Homo sapiens: one gene and its partners. The protein of the gene in region 3 purifies or fractionates together with the protein of the main gene of each other region. This does not show direct contact. Each region holds a gene or a part of one and is shown on either strand. Other genes may lie near its edges.

Region 1 (3,444 bases), on a different chromosome or scaffold from region 3:
TTTTCATCATCCTAAACTGAAACTCTGTACCCACTAAACAGTAACTCCCCACTCCCCCTGTCCCCAGTCCCTGGTAACCTCTATTCTACTTTTTTTTTTTCTCTGTGGATTGGCCTATTCTAGGTATCTCTTTTAAGTAGAATCATATAGTATTTGTCCTTTTGTGTCCAGCCCCCTCATTTTTTGAGATGAGGAATCAGGCCCAGAGAAGGCAGTGGCTCACCCAAGGTCACATCGCAAACCAGAGGCAGAGCCAAGACCAGAACCCAGGTTTCCTGACTCCTAACAGGTCTTGCATCCCCAGTAGTGAATGAGACACTGCTTTGACTTTCTGTAATCTTGGTTTAGCCCCTTCCTTTCTCTGGGCTCAGTCTGCTTCCCACCACTCACCCATTCTTTCTTTATCATCTCCCTCCAAAGCCTCTTGTCCTCCTGCCTCCTCTTCTCCTTGGCTGGTTCCTGCCAGCAAATGGAGTGGCCCTGGTCCATGCCAGGTTTTCCTCTTCTGGGTCCGGAGCTCACTATAGTATTCAGCCCTCAGTCCTCCCAGGATGTTCTTCCCAGCACTGCTGCCTCGTGCGGATTTTCCCGTAACCTCAGTAACTGGCTTCTTGTCCCCCTGCTTCCTACCAGGGAAGCCTTCCTGTCCGCGTCTGTGGTTTCCCAACTCTGATATTTGCTCTCAAATGTGGTGGTGTCCTGGTTCTGTGTTTATTTATTTTGTGTTTTCTCACACACACAAAAAAAAGCCTCTTCCTCCAATGCATCAGGAGGCACCAGCCCTGCCAGCCCTTCTCACTGGGCTCACCCTGCCCCAGCAACCCCCCGGTGCCACCCTTAAGCCACACTGTCTTCTCTGTAAGCAGCCTGCCAGCAGCAGCCCCAGCACTTTGCAATGGGCGTGTGTGTGGTGGTGGGTGGGGGGGGCTTGGATCCCTCCTTTTTCCTCCCCTGCCCTGCCCAGGCCCAGATGGCCTTGACTGTAAAGCAGGTGCTGCCTGACAGGTTCTTCTCTCCCTGTCTCTGGTCATTGATCCATCTCTTTGTCCATTCAGTATCCAACCATCCTCTCCATTCTCCTCTGGACCTCACCACTCTCAGAGCTGCTTGTCCTGGCAGAATCTACAGTTCACCCCAACTCTATGCCTTACCCCTCCCAACCCAACAGCATTTGCAGTTTGCAAAATATACAGACCCAAGTCCTGAGGGGACTGAGGACATGATGCTGGGCCCAAGTCTCCTGCTCAGGGCTTCTCTCCAATGCCAGCCCTGCCACTCCTTCCTCACCCTCCTTGGAGCCTCCTCTGCTGCTTGTCTATCCCAACGGCCCTGCTCCCCTCCCTTCCTGCCCTTCACCAGCTTTCTGGACACCATGCCCTGAGGAAGGGACCTTTGGTTTTCTCTAAACATCTTTGAAGGGCTGAGGCAGTCAGGGCTGGCTGCCTTGTCACTCTTTATTTGGAAGCCACTCAAACCATTCCCAAGAAGAGGGACCTCAGCTGGCAATCTGGAAACCTGGCCCAGGTCTGGGCAGATGTCTTCACTTCTCCTACCTTCCCAGTCTTGTGATCCTGTGATGAGCACCAGGATGGCCCTGTGGTCCCTAGAGCACCCCTCATGCTGTAGGGTCCTGCAGCCCCATCCTTTCTCTACTGGGCCCTGGTATCCTGGCTCCTCTCTCAGCTCTGCCACTGATCTCTGTGCCTTAGTTTACTTCTCTGCACGGGGGACTCACCCCAAGACCATTTCCAGCAGCTTCCCAGGTGATGTGGTGCCCCAAGGCTGGGCTTTGCCAGCTGTGGCCCAGCTCCTTAGTGCTGCCCAGGAGACACCAGGCTGCTCAGAATGAGGTGACTGCGGGCACCATTCTCAGCCAGTGGTTCTTGTATTGCATTCCAGCAGCAGGAATATCACCTGGGAACTTGATAGAAGTGCAGATTAGCAGCCCCACCCAAGACCCACTGAATTAGAGCTTGTGGAGTGGGGCCCTACAAGCTGGGGTTTTAAGGAGCCCTCCAAATGATTCTGACGCATAAGAATATGCCAACTGCTGATCTGGGCTAGCCATTAGTAGAGCCTGGGGAGGGACTGGGACTGGCTAGGCCAAGAACAGGTGGAAAACACCAGCCTTATCTGGACTCCTGAGATTGGGAACCACCACCAACAAAAACCAACCCTATAGTCGCTCCTCTTGGAAGAGGAAGAGAAGTTGAAGGGCCTGGAGAAAGCACACATTGTTTGTTTCCCTGCTCCTGCTCACCTCTCTCACTTGTCTTGGTTTTACAAAAGGCTGTGTGGATGGTGCCAGCCAGGGAGGGGGTGGGAGTCCTGGGGAGGCAGGAGGCAGAAGACCCTGACTGTTTCTCCCTTGGGAACCTCACCATAGGCCAGATAGCGCCTCTTCAAACTGAAAGAAATCTTAACTCCACAAAGAAAGCATCCTAAATCCCCAGTTCCTCCTCCTCCCAACCCCAGGGATACCTTGTAGACAGTGCCAAAAAACAGCTCCAACCCCCAGCAGCTGGGAAGAGAGCCAGAAGCTGCCCTTCCTCCTCATCCTGGCCCCTCCCCAGCCCCCGCCAATACTGTGAACCCCCTTCCCACTCAGCCTGGTTTCCTGGTGAGGGTCCTGCAGTCATGGGCCCTGGGGGACCCCCAGGGCAAGGCCCATGGGAGGGAAGGGACCAAGGGCATCCTTGGGCCAACTGTCCACCTCTCTTGTCCACTATTCTCTCCTTTCCACTTCTGTCTTCAAAAGGCTCCTTCCTAGGATGGATCGGGTGCTAGGACAACTGCAGTCCAATCCACCAGCTCTCCCTGCCCCTGTGTCTTATTTCAGACATGAGAATAACTGTACAGTGTAAACTTATAAAGCGTTTTTAATGGTTGTAGATTGGAAATAAAGTATGTCATATGAACAGCTGCTGTGGACTTGGCCTCCTCTCTGATTTTTCTAATGAGGTGGGTGGGGGCCCCAGCGGATCTGAAACCTAACTTTTCCCCACTCCCAGCTGCCTGGGAAGTGGGGAGCCCAGGGAGGCCACAGCCAGCTGGCTGGTTTGGAGTCACTTGGGAGGGGCCACCAGGTGTTCTGGCTGCTGCCTGCTGATACTTCAGCGTCTCCCACACAGTGTGATATGACCACTGAGAAACAAATGCAGTCTTCAAAAAGAAGAAAAATAGAATTGAACTTTTCTACAAAAGACTTTAACAATTTTATGAAAAAAAAAAAGACACTTTTAGGTGTGTGTCAATTGTCTATTGAAGCGTAATTAATTATTCCGAAACATTTATTATACCCCACAGATGCTATGGGTCAGGAATTTGGGAGCTGGGCAGTTCTGATTCAAGGTCTCAGGAGGTTGCAGTCAGTTGTCAGTCAGGCTACAGTCATTTGAATGCCTGATGAGCTGGAAGACCCATTTGCAAAGTAGCTACTTATGC
Region 2 (3,648 bases), on a different chromosome or scaffold from region 3:
CCTGCGTTTCCCCAGAGCCTCTGCCCATTTTACTGCACCGGGATGCAGCCCTATTTCCAGCGAGGCTGCTTTCCTCCGAGCACACTGCTTCTGAGTTGTTTTCGTAGCTCAAAATGTTCCTTGTGGTGAGCTTTTCTAGGGGCCCTCTGTTTTCTTTTCAGGTGAGAGGGCCGTCATGCCCGTCTCTCCACTAGCCTGTGTACGAATGGTCACATAAATCCCACTGCCAGTGTTTCAGTTGTGGGGACTGTTCAGTTGCCATTTACTGTGGAGAAGGTGTCACTTGCATCCGTTTACTCTGCCTGAGGCCACCTCCCCACTGTTCCTCCGACAGCAGGGGAGAGAAGAGGGTTGTGAAGGAGGCTAGCAAACCAGATGATTGCGTGTATGCATGTGAGGTACTCATTTGGCCACTCAGAAGCTTAAATGACAATAGTTCAATTCGGGAAGGAAACGCAGGGATCCTAATGGACTTTTCTACAGGTCGTGGAGCCTGCCCACATGTGCAAAATTGGGCCCAGAGCTTCAGGGACCCCCTGTGGCAGAGGCAGTAGTCATGCCTTTGCAGTGGTGGTTAGCGTGTGCCCTTTATAAATCAAAACTTCTCTTTTTGTTATTTTCAGGGGTATTTTTTCCGTTTTTTGTGGTTTTTTTTTGAAGGGATGGTCTTGCTCCGTGGCCCAGGCTGGAGTGCAGTGGCATGATCATAGCTCACTACAACCTTGAACCCGTGGGCTCAAGTGATCTTCCTGCCTCATCCTGATAAGTAGCTGGGACCACAGGAACACACCACCAAGCTGGGCTAATTTTTAAATTTTTTTATAGAGACAGGGTCTGGCTATGTTGTCCAGGCTTGTCTTGAACTCCTGGCTTCAAGTGATCCTCCCTCCTTGCCCTCCCAAAGTGCTAGGATTACAAGTTTGAGCCTCTGTGCCTCGTGGGGTACTTTTTAAAGAGGGTAGATAAAAGTACGTCCTTGACCTGCTGCTTTGTTAGGGAGCACTGCACAGAACTAACTCTCAGGATTAGGTATAGCATTCATCTATTCCAATGTATCTGATAAGAGGCTCGGCCCACAAATTTTACGTTGCTATATTCTGGAGCATTCCAAGTAAGTGCTGTCATCATTGTTGTACAAGACTGTGACAGTTTCTGAACTAGAATGACCAAAGCCCAATTCAATAGAAAAATAAGTCCAGCAAAACCTTAGGAGGATATTCTTCGGATCAGGACATTTAAGTGGAATTATCTTGGCTTTTAGCCAGGCTGCTGTATTTTTTATTTTATTTTTATTTATTTTTTTTGAGACGGAGTCTTGCTTTGTCGTGCAGGCTGGAATGCAGTGGCGTGATCTCGGCTCACTGCACCCTCCGCCTCCCAGATTCAAGCAGTTCTCCTGCCTCAGCCTCCGGAGTAGCTGGGATTACAAGTGCCCGCCACCACGCCCAGCTAGTTTTTGAATTTTTAGTAGAGACAGGGTTTCACCATGTTGGCCAGGCTGGTCTTGAACTCCTGACTTCAGGTGATCTGCCCGCCTCGGCTTCCCAAAGTGCTGGGATTACAGGCATGAGCCACCGCGCCCGGCCTGGCCTGTATTTTTTTAAATAGTCAGTGTCAACAGAGAAGCGGACACCTTGTGTTGTGCTGTAACAGAGCAAATTTGGTCGTCCCTGACTCTGCTTTCTGTTCCTTCTCCACCTTCATCAAATGGTGCCTGGGTGACTAGGTGAAAAATGCAAAATCAATCCAGGTAGCTGGCTTTTGTGTGAAAACACAGACAGAAAAGCACTCTTGTTGTCCTTTGACCTCTGATAAACTCAAATACATTTGGAAGTATTCAGAAATTCAGGTGAGCACTTCAGTTATCCAAAGGCCTGGGCTTCTCATAAAACCCAGGCACTTTCTTTTTTTTTTTTTTTTTTTTTCTCTTTAATTATGGTAAATATTTAATGTTTCCTTATAAAATAATTACAGCCTTAATAGAAACAAAACTGTTGAAAGTGTACCTGGATGACAATAATGGTTAAATATACACTTTAATAATTTAAAGTGATGAGTTTTTTTTTTTCACAAAAGTTTAAGGTGGTAATGAAATCATTGGAATCCCTTTTACCAAAGTGAATTTTAAAAATTACATTTTCCCTCTTGCAATCATGTTTGTAGCATAAAGGAGCAATAAATGGGGGCAGGGAGTAAAGCTTGGGAACTAGTCTATGTTAGGCTTGAGTAGTCTAGGGCAATGTCTGATAAAGGAGGGGTTTGAATTTTGGTATGGAAGGCTTTCTTTTTTTTTTTTTTTTTTTTAATCTGTTTTCTTTTTTCTTTTTTTTTTTACTTTTTTTTTTTTTATTATACTTTAAGTTTTAGGGTACATGTGCACATTGTGCAGGTTAGTTACATATGTATACATGTGCCATGCTGGTGTGCTGCACCCACTAACTCGTCATCTAGCATTAGGTATATCTCCCAATGCTATCCCTCCCCACTCCCCCTACTCCTCGACAGTCCCCAGAGTGTGATATTCCCCTTCCTGTGTCCATGTGATCTCATTGTTCAATTCCCACCTATGAGTGAGAATATGCGGTGTTTGGTTTTTTGTTCTTGTGATAGTTTACTGAGAATGATGATTTCCAGTTTCATCCATGTCCCTACAAAGGACATGAACTCATCATTTTTTATGGCTGCATAGTATTCCATGGTGTATATGTGCCACATTTTCTTAATCCAGTCTATCATTGTTGGACATTTGGGTTGGTTCCAAGTCTTTGCTATTGTGAATAATGCCGCAATAAACATACGTGTGCATGTGTCTTTATAGCAGCATGATTTCTAGTCCTTTGGGTATATACCCAGTAATGGGATGGCTGGGTCAAATGGTATTTCTAGTTCTAGATCCCTGAGGAATCGCCACACTGACTTCCACAATGGTTGAACTAGTTTACAGTCCCACCAACAGTGTAAAAGTGTTCCTATTTCTCCACATCCTCTCCAGCACCTGTTGTTTCCTGACTTTTTAATGATTGCCATTCTAACTGATGTGAGATGATATCTCATAGTGGTTTTGATTTGCATTTCTCTGATGGCCAGTGATGGTGAGCATTTTTTCATGTGTTTTTTGGCTGCATAAATGTCTTCTTTTGAGAAGTGTCTGTTCATGTCCTTCGCCCACTTTTTGATGGGGTTGTTTGTTTTTTTCTTGTAAATTTGTTTGAGTTCATTGTAGATTCTGGATATTAGCCCTTTGTCAGATGAGTAGGTTGCAAAAATTTTCTCCCATGTTGTAGGTTGAACCCAGGCACTTTCTTAATGCTGAGGACTTTGGTAAAGCGCTGGTGTGTTCCTTCCCTGCCAGGCTGCCAAGACTGTGTTTTGCTCGAGTGCTCGGAGACAGTCAGACAAGCCGGAGTGCTCGTTGTCAACATATTAATTATGTTCTCTGTTTCCACAGGCTTTTCAGGAGGATTTAATCAGTTGGCATTTATGAGCCTATTTTGAAAATGCTTTTAGCAGCCATAACCCCACACCTCCCCCACCCCCAAATAGTGTCCTCTTGCCATGCTGACCTCCTGCAGGGTGGGTGAGGATTGGGGTGGGAAGAGCTGTTTCTTTTTGCTTTGCTTTGCTTTCTCAGTTATTTCATAGGAAATA
Region 3 (4,156 bases):
GAGACCATCCTGCTAACACAGTGAAACTCCATTTCTACTAAAAATACAAAAAAATTAGATGGGCGTGGTGGCACATGCCTGTAGTACCAGCTACTCAGGAGGCTCAGGCAGGAGAATCGCTTGAACCCAGGAGGTGGAGGTTGCAGTGAGCCGAGATTGTGCCACTGCACTCCAGCCTGGCCAACAGCGAGACTCTGTCTCAAAAAAAAAAAAAAAAAAAAAAAAAAAATTCACCGAAAGACTCCTGGAACTACATGATTATACCAAGGTTGCAGGATACAAAGTTAATATACAAAAGTCAACCCCTTTCCTGTACACAGGTGTAAGCTGAATTTGAAATAAAAAACACAATACCATTTACAGTAGCACCCACAAAAATTAAATACTTAGGTGTAAGTCTAACAAAATATATAATGATACTATATAAAATCTATATGAGAAAAACTACCAAACACTGCTGAATGAAAACTAAGAACTAGATAGAGAGATATAACATGTTCATGGATAGGAAGACTCAATATTCAAGACTTCAGCTCTTCCCAACTTGATCTACAGATTGAATGCACTGTCAGTTAAAATCCCAGCAAGTTATTTTGCAGATGTTGACAAACTGATTATAAAGTTCAGACAGACAAAAGACTTAGATTAGCTAACAGGATACGGAAGCAGAAGAATACATTTGGGAGAATGAACCTGACTTCAAGACTTATAGGCTGGGCATGGTGGCTCACACCTGTTATCCCACCAATGCTTTGGGAGGCCAAGGAGGAAGAAGTGCTTGAGGCCAAGAGTTGCAGGCCAGCCAGGGCAACACAGTGAGACCCTATCTGTACAAAAAAAAAAAAAAATTTTTAATTAGCCTGATGTGGTGGCATATGCCTGTAATCCCAGCTACTCAGGAGGCTGAGGTGGAGGATCCCTTGAGCCCGGGAGTTCGAGGCTGCAGTGAGTTGTGACTGTTCCACTGCACTCCAACCTGGGCAACAGAGTGAGATCCTGCCTTGAAAAAAAAACAAAAGATTTACTATAAAGACCAGCCTGGGCAACATGGCTAAACTCCATCGCTACAAAATATACAAAAATTACCCGGACTGGGTGGCATGTGCCTGTAATCCCAGCTACTCGGGAGGCTGAGGCTCAAGAATCGCTCGAACCCGGGAGGCAGAGGTTGCAGTGAGCCGAGATCGCGCCACTGCACTCCAGCCTGGGCGACAGAGCGAGACTCCGTCTCAAAAAAATAAAAAAAGACTTATTACAAAGCTACAAAAATCAAGACAGTGTGGCAGTGTGGTATTAGTGAAACAACAAATAGATCAATAGAACTCAATAAAGAGCCCAGAAATAGACCCATATAAATATAGTCAACTGATCTCTGACAAAGGAACAAACTCACAGGGGGAGAAATCCACTCCTAACTTTCTCTCGTTTCTTTAGCACAACAGCCTTTCTCCACCGTGTGTCCTTTCCTTTCATTAACCTGAGTCCTCACCTCGGTCCTCTTGAGGGTTCCAGTTGGTCACACTCTGAGCTTCCACGAATACAATAAGGTGTCTTTATGTATTTCCAGTTTAGACCTCCCATGTGAGTTACAGGCTGAAATACAGGCATTGGATATTCAACACCTGCGAAAGTCATTCCCAGGGTCCCTCTTCCAATAGCATTCCTAGTCTCCGGCTGTATAGCTCAATGGTAGAGCACCACATCCGGCAACGTCGTCAACACCACTCACCGAGGGCAAAGGATTTGGCAATCAAATCACTTGTAAAGACTCCCCTCTGGTTCACTCCATCAATAATTCATAAAGTCCCGATGATCCACTGGCCCGCCCCTTACCTTTCGGACTCTCGAGCTCCGCTCCTAGCCTTTTCTCCCTATTCATTCACCTGTAATTGCGTCCATAGTTCACTAGACTACCCTCTCCACCAAACCAAAGCTCCTCTAAAATTAGGAACATACATAATTTATCTCTGCATTGCCAGCACCAGCCTTAGAGTCCAGCAGACAAAAGGACACTCCATAAACAAGCATTTGGCCAAACGAAAAAGGAGGAACTGATCATTTCTCCAGCTAAGTTCTAAGGGTCTCCATAAGACAACTTTGTGTAGAAAACATGAAATGATGGAGGATCCTCAGACTTCAGGGCCCGCAGCTGGCCATGAAGTGCAGTATAACTGCCCGTCACAGAATACCACAGGCACGTTTCTGCAGGGCCAGAGCTTGGGCGAGCTTCAGAGGCGCTTTGGTTTGGTGGGGAGGGTAGTCTAGTAAACTACGCACACAATTACAGCTGAATGTGAGTTCAGTTCCCGGAGTAACCCTGAAGAGATTAACGTGGCCACCCTCAGTATCCAGTCGAATTTTAAACACGGAAAGTCTCTACTTACCCAGCACGAAGCTGTCCGGAAACTGGTGGCCATCCCCACGCCCACGTTCGCGCGCTGCCTGCGGGGGCAGGACCCGCGGGCTGCGGAGAGACCGTGAGGGATGCGTCCGCCCGAAGACAGGTGCGGGACCAGGGCCCCAGGCTCCTGACCGTCCCGGGGCCGAGTCGTTGGCAGGGACGCCGGCTCCTCAGCTCTCGCCCAACACAGACCGCGCGTGACTAGACAACCTCCCGGTCTGGGTACCAGGAGTCGCACGGATGGATTTGTGCCTTTCCGTGGCCCTGACTCGGGAGAGCAGGAGGCTGATCTGGCCCCGTCCACGCCCCGGACCGACGGAAGTGTTTAGCTGGTCAAGTCTCTGGTCTGCCCAGGATAATCCGAGCCGCTTAGCTCCGCGCCTCCGCGGCCACAGAGACTCAGCCAGGTACACCCGCTGGCCAGATTCCGGTCCACTGAGTCTAAGCCGGAAACAGCCCTGCACGCGCGCACCCGACTAAGGCCGGGAGTGCGGCGCATGCGGAAGTGCGTCCTGCGTCGATGCGCCAGGACGCGAAGGCGCCGGAAAAACTACATCTCCCACAATCCTCGGAGAAGGCTCCCTCGTTACAGGCCTGGCTTCCAGCTGCCGCGGATCTAGAGAGGGGCACAGCCTGACGGGAAAGGAAGGCTGGGAGGGGGCTCCGCCAGCGGCACCTGGTTCACCCTCCCACGGCTGCGCCAGGTTCAGTACCATCCTCGGAGCCTGGACGCCCAGTTTCCCAGGGCCTGTAGAACTGACTCAGAGTCCGACCCCAGCAGAGACGCAGGCGTGCTGAGGTTTTGATATCAAACAAGATAGGGTTCAGACCAGAAGGCACAGCAAAAAAGGACGCTTTGTAAAGCTAAAAGCTGCAGTTCATAGGGTTAAATAACAGTTTTGAATATCAGTGCACCAAATAATACAGTAACCAACTTCATAAAGGAGAAACTATAGTAGATGTGAAAAACAAATAAATAGAACCACACCAGTAATGAAACTGCCTTTGCAAAAATTATATCAGTGAGAAAATTATAGCAGTGGGGGAGGTCTAATCTAACCAAACCCCCAACTCTGCGCGCCTTTGGCTGTCAAGATGCCTTCATTATTCCTGGGCTTAGGCCAAGCTAACTTTGGAAGACATTTAGGTTATAGTTCAAATGATAGCCCTTTTCCAAAACCCAACTGCCTTTGTAAAACCTATGAGAGACCACCAAGCTAGCGGGAGGAGAGGAGCCTGAATTCTGCTAAGATGTGGATTGGTCACAAGACACGCAACTTCCCCAGTTACTCCTACAGATAACACCACTATTGTAGATTGGCCTTTTGAGATTTAAAAATGTGCAAAATGGCCAGGCACGATGGCTCACGTCTGTAATCCCAGCATTTTGGAGGGCTGAGGTGGGTGGATCGCATGAGCCCAGGAGTTGGAGACTAGCCTGGGCAACATGGTGAAACCTCGTCTCTACAAAACATATCAAAAGTAAGCCGGATGTGGTGGCATGCATCTGTAGTCTCAGCTACTTGGGGGGCTAAGGCAGCAGAATTGCTTGAGCCCGTGAGGTGGAGGTTGCAGTGAGCCGAGATTGCACCATTGCACTCCAGCCTCGATGACAGGAGTGAAACCCTGTCTCAAAAAAAAAAAAAAAAAAAAAGTGCCAAACATCTGAATAGACATTTCTCAAAAGAAGACATACAAATGGCAAACAGGTATATGAAAAGGTACACAATATAATTGATCATCAGAGAAATGCAA

The links.
Region 1: the proteins of ZNF26 (region 3) and MTCL2 purify together in Homo sapiens (affinity purification with mass spectrometry; one large-scale study listed by BioGRID and IntAct). This does not show direct contact.
Region 2: the proteins of ZNF26 (region 3) and MTCL1 purify together in Homo sapiens (affinity purification with mass spectrometry; one large-scale study listed by BioGRID and IntAct). This does not show direct contact.

The regions. Positions count from the first base shown.
Region 1 is NC_000020.11:36,776,921-36,780,364, reverse strand, and holds the end of MTCL2 (microtubule cross-linking factor 2), read left to right. Parts: 3' UTR 1-2,533; coding exon of another isoform or gene 2,534-2,591; 3' UTR 2,592-2,918; downstream 2,919-3,444. UniProt on the Homo sapiens protein: Microtubule-associated factor that enables integration of the centrosomal and Golgi-associated microtubules on the Golgi membrane, supporting directional migration. Preferentially acts on the perinuclear microtubules accumulated around the Golgi.
Region 2 is NC_000018.10:8,708,554-8,712,201, forward strand, and holds part of MTCL1 (microtubule cross-linking factor 1), read left to right. Parts: intron 1-3,648. UniProt on the Homo sapiens protein: Microtubule-associated factor involved in the late phase of epithelial polarization and microtubule dynamics regulation.
Region 3 is NC_000012.12:132,985,102-132,989,257, reverse strand, and holds the start of ZNF26 (zinc finger protein 26), read right to left. Parts: upstream 2,892-4,156; 5' UTR 2,418-2,891; coding exon 2,385-2,417; intron 1,594-2,384; exon of another isoform or gene 1,490-1,593; intron 1-1,489. UniProt on the Homo sapiens protein: May be involved in transcriptional regulation.